2 separate regions of the Homo sapiens genome follow, and region 1 is linked to region 2. The links come from fine-mapping of genetic effects on gene expression. A gene starts in region 2. The other region holds a variant in brackets. All regions are shown on one strand. Distances are between the middles of the regions. Region 1 overlaps USP9X (ubiquitin specific peptidase 9 X-linked). Region 2 holds the start of USP9X (ubiquitin specific peptidase 9 X-linked).

What was found. PIP is the estimated chance that this variant, and not a neighbour inherited with it, causes the effect. A credible set is the group of variants that fine-mapping cannot tell apart.
Region 1: its variant is the best candidate, but not a certain one, in a credible set for the expression of USP9X in skeletal muscle (GTEx, PIP 0.53).

Annotation. Positions count from the first base shown.
Region 1 is chrX:41,215,911-41,220,432 of GRCh38, reverse strand. It overlaps USP9X (ubiquitin specific peptidase 9 X-linked), which reads right to left. Exons shown (of 45, transcript NM_001039591.3): 35 at 3,781-4,522; 36 at 3,090-3,213; 37 at 1,836-2,061; 38 at 1,202-1,331. Among named protein-coding and RNA genes, the nearest start is that of LINC02601, 58 kb to the left of the region's middle. The variant T/G (reference allele first, on the strand shown) is at 2,491.
Region 2 is chrX:41,083,283-41,087,282 of GRCh38, reverse strand. USP9X (ubiquitin specific peptidase 9 X-linked) reads right to left here and starts at 1,838. Exons shown (of 45, transcript NM_001039591.3): 1 at 1,174-1,838. RefSeq lists silencers at 644-1,103, 1,804-2,183, 2,614-2,683 and enhancers at 1,228-1,765, 2,304-2,843, 2,593-2,887.

The DNA of each region.
Region 1 (4,522 bases), 130 kb before region 2:
CTGATCTTAAGGACTTCATATTAAGGTTTACAGGCCCTACAGTATTTGTTTTCAGCAGGAAAATTTTACAAGTAGGTTACATTATGGAACAATGATGTGTGCTTTGTGAACAGGCAATATCTAAAAGAGTTGAACAGAATAGGATTCTTCTGAATGTCTAAATTTGGCATTTTTAAGTTTGAAATACAGATTCCACTTATGCTTGTCTGTGTAATAAATATTCTCTTTCTCATCTACAAATACCCAAATATCTGCAATTACGGAAAAGACAAGGGAAAAGAAGACAAACTAAATAGACAAATGAAAAGTACAATCTCCCTTATGTTAAAAGGGCCATGGATCCAATGGTGATTAAGTAAGATCACAGAAAAAAAACCTGAAACGACAGGTACGCCTGGATATAGAACTTCATTTTGGATATATGACTTTTTGGTTTGTTTGCTTTTTGGAGACAGGGTCTCATTCTGTTGCCCAGGCTGGAGTGCAGTGGTGCAATCACGGGTCACTGCAGCCTCAACCTCCTTAGCTCAAGTGATTCTCCCACCTCAGCCTCCCAAGTAGCTAGGACTACAGGCATATGCCACTACATCCAGCTAATTTTAAAATTTTATTTTGTAGAGATAGGGTCTCCCTATGGTGCCTAGGTTAGTCTCCTGGGCTCAAGCAATCCTCTTGCCTTGGCCTCCCAAAGTGCTGGGAGTACAGGCATAAGCCATTGTGCCCGGCCCCTAAATTAATATTTTAAGCGAGTATTTATATTATCCATAATTGTAGTTTACTTAAACAAAAACTTATGTACAGACCAAGTCTGCTATCTAAATTTGGTGAGTATCACAACCATTTGGGGACCCCTTTGAAAACATGGATTCCCTGACATTAGCTTTGGGGATGCTGATTCAATCAGTGTGAGAAGAGGCCTAGAAACCAGTATTTTCCAAAAGCAGCCAGATTTGGCACCACTGCATTAGGAGATTAAAAAAAAAAAAAAATCAAAACACAGATTCTGACCTGTGTCTACCACAAAGACACATGCATAAACAAAGTAAAAGGTGAAAGTGCCATGTTCAGATAAAATTCACAACAGGTTTTATGGGAAATTGTTTCTACTTCAGATCAGATTATATTTCATCACTTGACCTAAATGACTTCACAATTTAATATGATACATCAAAACAGAATTCTGAAAAACTTAAATTCTTACCTAAATTGGCATACATTACAAACAGGTTGAAATACTGCTGTAAATGACGCCCATGCTCTGAAACTTCCCTTCTCAAGAGATTTAGTACTGCTCTTAGTAAGTGATCACTCAAGCTTAAGTTGTCATAAGCCTGTAAAGGATAAAACATTACCTGTTTTACAGCAACAAGGTATATGTATACTTCTACTTGCATAAAAAGGACATGCACATATGCTGATACAGGCATACATTTATGGAAGGACTGATCACACAAACTAAACTATTTTGCTTCTTGGGAAAGGGAATGAAGATCAGAGGCGGATTTCATTATAATTTTTTACACTTGTAATTTTTTAAAAAAATCTAAGACTATTTAAAAAACCTTCAAAATAGGAAAAAATCTACTTAACAGTAAACTTATAATTAAGCTACTGCATGTAACCGAACAGAGAAAATTCTCTTACATTTTTAAAGAGCCAATAATTACTATTCATTGCCATGCAGTAATATTAAATGGAACTCACTGACATCATATTGTGTGTTTCTGTTAGGTAAACATATCAAGTGGATGCACATATGCTTGTGACTTCGACTTCCAGGAAACACAATTTATTTGTAAACATCTCATCATTTAGAAAGAAAGCTGTGCAATTACCTGACTAGAAGGTCCAGGAGAGGCAAAAGGTGAAGGACATGGCCCATCTTGCAAGGAAAAATGTGCAATAAAGACTATAAGTTTTGCAAACGCACCCCTCACTTCTGCACTAGGGCACTCCAGAAGGTATTCGGAGAAGCGATTTGAAACATTAAAAAGGACGTTATGAGCAAACCAAAAACGTACATTCTTGCTGTGACGAAGGAGAATACACAATGCATCATACCTAAAATAAAACAAAAAAACCTATGACTATTAAGTCAATAACTTGTTCTCTATAGTAAAAGGATGAGTCTCATTGAACCAAAAAAAAAAGACAAAGATCTTCCTCTACTGCTGGAGAGAACCAGCAAAGGTTGCTTCTAATATTAAAACAATAGATAAATACTATGACTTGGTCTATTCTCTCAGAGTTACCAAACAGGTGAAAGCTTGTCCTCTAAAAATCCATTAACAAACTCTTCCTAGATTCAATGACAAAATACCACCCCCTTATCTTGACATATTCCTGAAATGAGTAAGTAAAAATTATTAAATCAATGTATCATAATGGCCTCTATACTTTCACAATTAGAAACTTAAGAAAACCATTTTAATTTTTTACCCTTTTAATCGGTGTCAGAATTCAATCTAGGTAAGCTAAAACCTAATAAAT[T/G]TCATAAGTAGCTTACACTTTTCAGTCTCATCTTGTAATCTTTGGTTTTGTTTGAGACAGGGTCTTGCTCTGCTGCCCAGGCTGGAGTGCAGTGGCACAGTCATGGCTCACTGCAGCTTCAACCTCCCAGGCTCCAGCGATCCTCCCACCTCAGCCTTCCGAGTAGCTGGGATTACAGGTGTGCGCCACCATACTTGGGTAATTTTTAAAATCTTCTTTGAAGAGATGGGGGTCTCACTATGTTGCCTAGGCTGGTCCTGAACTCCCGAGCTCAAGCAATCCTCCCACCCTGGCTTCCCAAAGTGCTGGCATTACAGGTGTGAGTCACTGTCCCCCAGTCTCAGCTTGTAGTCTTTGGTGCAGGGATGTCAAAGATATGATACAAGGTAATAGAAGCAGAAGTCAGCTTCTGAATAACAAAAGGCCATGTTTAGACTAAGTAACTATTTTAATATGATTTCTCTATTGTGACCCAGAGTTTTTATTCTATATTCCAAACTTCAAACAAAATTCTCTTGGTTTAGAAAAACATAAAGCAATCTATTAAAGAAGCAAACCAAACATTAGTATAATAGGAATGAAAATCCAAAGCAATGTACCAATCACTGGCAGAGCCACGGACTACTTTCTTTGTGTGAAATCCTGTAGTAAAGAGGAACCTAGCAGCAAGTTGAATACTGATCATAGTGATTTCTTCTGCTTCAGGCAACAGGTGATCTTGCCCTATAAATAAAATGCAGATATAAAAACACATTTTTATTTTCCAACCCCATTTTCAAACAAGTCTGTGTTTCCATTAATTTTGAGAAGTCCTAAATTTGTTAAGAACCCTTCTCAGGCTACTTTAATTTAGACCCATTTATTTTTTTATTTTATTTTTTTGAGATGGAGACTCACTGTCACCCAGGCTGGAGTGCAGTGGCCATCAATTTGGGTCACTGCAACCTCCACCTCCCAGGTTCAAGCGATTCTCCTGCCTCAGCCTCCGGAGTAGCTGGGACTACAGGGAGTAGCTGGGACTACAGGTGCATGCCACCATGCCTGGCTAATTTTTATATTTTTAGTAGAGATGGGGTTTCACCATGTTGGTCAGGCTGGTATTGAACTCTTGACCTCAGGTGATCCACCTACCTCGGCCTCCCAAAGTGCTGGGATTACAGGCGTGAACCACCACACCCAGCAAATTAGACTCATTTAAAGTGAAAACATTAATTTTATGAACTTAAACATGTTGACGCCTACTATAAATTATTCTTTATTACTAAGAAGCTAAACTCTCTTGATACTCACCGGGAGGAGGGTTTAAGTAAACGCCATTACATGTAAGCAGTTTTTTCATAAACTGAAAATACTCCATACTGTACTGCATTCGGTTATGCATGAATTGTACGTTCTGTTTCCGTACACTTCTCTCAATGGCTGATGGCATAATAATCTGATGAGGTCTGGTGGTGATAGCAAGCTCTGATATATATCTTATCAACTCATCATCTTGGTCTATTGTGTCCATTCGTTCATAAAAAAGTATATAAGCATTCCACCACCTTTTCTGGCGCCTGTATGACATACGCTTCATCATGTGATCAAACACTTCTCCCATGTACTCTCCACCAAAACACTGGTTTTTCATTTCTTCGTCATCATCCATTTTACATTCTGTTACATCACCATCATCAAATTTATACCAGCGATTTCTCTCACCATCTCCACCATTCCTTTGGATGATGTAAGAATAATAATGCCCCCCACTCGCTTGACCACTGTGTACGAGCACACCCACAAGTCTGTATTTTGTGCTTCCTGCTGTCTCACTTTCAGACTGCTCACTCTGTTGTATCAACTGACTCTCTGGGTTTACATTATCCCCTTCCAGCTTTGCGACACCTGCAACTGTGTAAGGTTCCATGTCCAGCTCTCGAGGAAATTCAAAATAATCATTGAACTTGATTGCACATTCTCTTTCCCAGTCATAGTCAAATCGCTTTAGTTGTATAGCAAGAACAGGAGGTAATTTTTTAATCAGCAAGCGCTT
Region 2 (4,000 bases):
AAAAGTGAAAGTATACAAACGTTAAGTAGATTTAGGGACTCATGGGTTTCCAGGTAAAAGAACAGTACACATACTTCTCTCCCCGAAAAATAAAGCATGAATATTTAATCTATACCTACAACTTGCTTATTTAAACTAAAAGACAATCTGAAGCAATTATATACACCTGTAAACTGCACCGTGTAAATTCAATTAACGTTGTAACTATGGAACTTCCAAAAAATAACATGCTTAATTTAAGCAGGTTCTACTAGAAATTTTGCAAATTCTCGTGTAAGTTCTAGTCGCTACAGAAATCCACACAAATAATTTAAGAAGCCATCTACACACCTGCTGTATAACTCTTTAACTTATTTCACAATGAATGAAAAATCAGCCATTTATCCAACCCTAAGCCTCACGTCACAAGAATCTGAAGACCTGATCACTACCAAACTCGCACATGCTAATATTTGCAGAAACAGTTAAAAATAGAAAGGTAATAGGTCCAAGCTAGCTTGGAAGCGATTTCTGCATTCAAAAACCCCTTTCACGGCTTTGGCCCTCTGCAAATAAAGCGGGGCGAAGGAGGTGTAGGAGGCCGATAACCCAGCTCCCACTCCAGGAGCCCAGGGCCGGGGAGAAACTGCGGGTTATCGCGGGAGGGTGGGGGGAGGCGGACAAGTCGTCAGGCCTGATAGCCAGGCGTAGCCGAGGCCTAGCTCCCCAGCTCCAAATCACTCCACCTCAGTAATGGCGTTTGGTGTCAAGTGGAACCAGACCGGGTAGGAAAGCGGCCGCCGGGCGGGGGGCGGCCAGCCCCCAAACCGACCCGGCCCCCGGGTGCGGACGGCGGGGGGGCTGCCCGCCACGCCCGGAGACTCCATCCTCCTACTCGGCCCCAGACAGGACGGGAAGGGGGAGGAGGGGGAGGGACGGAGCCGTCAGCCATTTTCCCTTACAGTCCAAAACACACAGACACGCTCTCGGGACACCGGCTCCACACACAACACGGGCCCGCGCGCCCGCCCAGCCCGGGCCGGAGGAGGGGGAACGGGGAAGCCCCAGCCTGGCCGGCAGCCGCCGAGGGAAGAGGCTCGCACACACGCACACCCCCCTCGCCCTCCTCCCCTCACCCACATCCAGCTGTTGGCCCCGGGAAAGAGCGTCGCCCCAGTGCAGCTGGCCACTCACCGCACGACACAGACGTCTTCTCACAACCAGGGCACACGGAGGCGGGAGGCACCAGGCGACGGTGGGGCTCGGTCCCGGGACGAGACCTACCCTGGGTGCATCCCAGGCCCGGGGGTGACCGGCAACAAAGTGTATCGAAAGGCTGCGGCGGCCGGGCTCGGGGCTGCGGGCGTCTCAACCAAAAGGCTGCACACCGGCGCCGGAACTCGCTCCTCGCCGCGCCCGCCTCCTCCTCCTCCTTGGCCGGCGACGGCCCTCTTCCCCTTCTCCCCTCAGGCTGGGGCTCTCGCTGAGCTCAGACGGGCTCCGGGCGGTGCGTTTCTCCTGCGTCACCTCCTCCTGCTCCTCCTCCTGCAGCGACGGCTTCACCTTCCCCTAGTCGCCGCCTCTGTCCCCGCTCCAGGCCTGGTGGCTTTGAAGTAGCTCGCTCCTCGCTCCCGGCGCCGACCCAAGCACCGGGCGCTAAGGCGGCCGCCTCCCGTGAGAGAGAGGCGGCGGCGGCGGGCTCCCGCGAGGCCCGGGAGCTGTGTAAGGCGGGGAGGGGCTAGGCGCGACAGAGGCCCTGACGGGGCCGGGTGCGGAGAGGTTGCGGCTCCGGCGGCGGCGGAGACTAGCGTCCGCAGCCGCGGATGCCCGTCCTCGTCAATATGGCGGATCCGGCAAACCAAAAAAAAAAAAACCGCTCGGCCAGTGGCGGCGGCGGTAGCGGCGACGGCGGCAGCAGCGGTGGCGGCGGCGGCGGCGGCGCAGACTCCCACTAGCCCCAGAGCCGCCCAAGACCCGAAGTTCTCCGCCCCCGTCAGGGCCCGCCCCTTTCAGGCCCCTCCTTTCGGCCCTCCCCCTGCTCCTGCCCAGCCCCCTCCCGCTCAGCTGCCCCCTCTTCTCTCCCTCCACCCCGGGCCGTCAAGGCTGGGAGAGCAGCGCGAGCCGCTGAGGGGGCCGGGCTTCGGCGCGAGCCGCCGGGAACCCGGAGAGCTAGGGTGGGGGAGGGGAAGACAATGCGGTAAAGATTGTTCGCGCAGTACTGTTTCTTCCGGCTGGCCCCTTCAGGGTCGTGCTACGGCCAGAAATCCTGTTCCATGCCCCTCGGCTCAGGAGCGGGACGAGGGCAGAGGTGGCTCTAGGACCGAAGTTGGGGAAGGGAGGCCCGAAAAGATCTGGCACACCACTCGGGAGGGGCTGGGCGGCAGGGACTGGCGGGGTGTGTGGCCACGACAGGGTTAATCGCGTGAGCCGCAGCCGCGTCGCTCATAGTTTGACTCGGGCCGCTTGTTTTTGTTCCATTGTGAACCGTAGCCCCGCCGACAAGAACCCGGATGATGACGTCACCGGCCTCCCCCTTTTCCGGGACCGTGGGGGGAGGGGCGCGGAAAGATGAGATCTCGAGACCACGCGCTGGGCGGTCGCCGCCGCGGTGCCTGGAGGTCCCGGCGGTGCAGCTGACCCGCGTCACGTGACGCACGAGCTGGCCGGGCCACTGGCTGCGGGGGCGCGAGGTCCCGAGGGCCTGGCCACCTGCTTGGCGCCGATAGGGGGAAGGTGTGGCTATCTCCCGCAGCGGAAGGAGGGGGCGTGGGGAGTGAGGTCCTTTTCCCCACCCCGCGAGGGAGGTGCTCTGAGAAACTCTTTCACACGATCATGCATCATCACTACCTCAAAGCGTTTAGGCGTCCTCAAAGCGTTTAGGCGTCCTCACAGCCTAGCTGACGGGACTGACCACCTTTTTGGCCATAGGAGCCCTTCAAACAGACCAGCAAAGAAAAAAATTATAAAGTGCCCCAGACGGCTTAGCGAATAGGCCGTACTTGATGTGGCAAGATTAGCCTCCATTGCCAGATCATCAGCACAATTCGGTGTTAGGACCCGGAAGAAACTTATGAACCCATCCGCTGTGTCATGGACTATTTTCTACATGTTTATATTCCAAAGTGCGGGCATAGGAAAAACTTAGGCTAATCTCAAATTAATGGGGTGCTTGGAACAAATCTGTACAGTCTACCTAGGATGCCCAAATGAAGAGGAAATTAACAGTTCCTAATTTACAGATTTCCTTTTGACTTAAAAAATACCTGTGGACATCAAATGGCATGCAAAATCATAGTAAAACCCTACAAACCGAGATCTATTTTATAGAGAAGAGGGTTGAATTTAGTTATGCTATGATTATATCAGTTTGTAATAAAAGACTGTTAAAAATGGAACCAAACTAATGTAGGTGACAGTGAAAGCAAGTTATTGGTATCTTAAATTTTTAAACCATTTCTCTATTTAGCACAAGATTGTTTACAAATTTTTCACCACAAATTATCTAATAGGGTATCCAAGATGTATCATTCATAGCCCTAATAACTCTTAGCATATGTTACCTTGTTTTTATAATTATTTCCATGAATCATTTGCTTCCCCACTAGCTCATGGGCTTCTAAAAAGCAGACACGACCACCCGCGTACACTATAGGCTGTTATTTTCTATTTTAGATAAGGAAACAGAAAGGGTAAATGATTTGCCCGAAGTCAGGATTGGAAAGTGTTGAACACTGGTCTTTTAACCCTATCAAAAGTGCACCTTTAACAAGGATGTCCCCTCTCACCAATTCTGTTCAATATTGTACTTGCAGTTCTAGCCTGAAAAAGAAATGAAAGGCATCCAGATAAGAAAGGAACAATTAAACTATCGCTACTTTCACATGACATGATTTTATATATAGAAAATCTTGGGAAATCCATTATAAAAAAAATAAAGCCAATAAGCAAGTTCAGCAAAACTGCAGGATATAAGATCAATATTTAAACATCAGTTATAGTTTTACACACTAGCAATAAACAA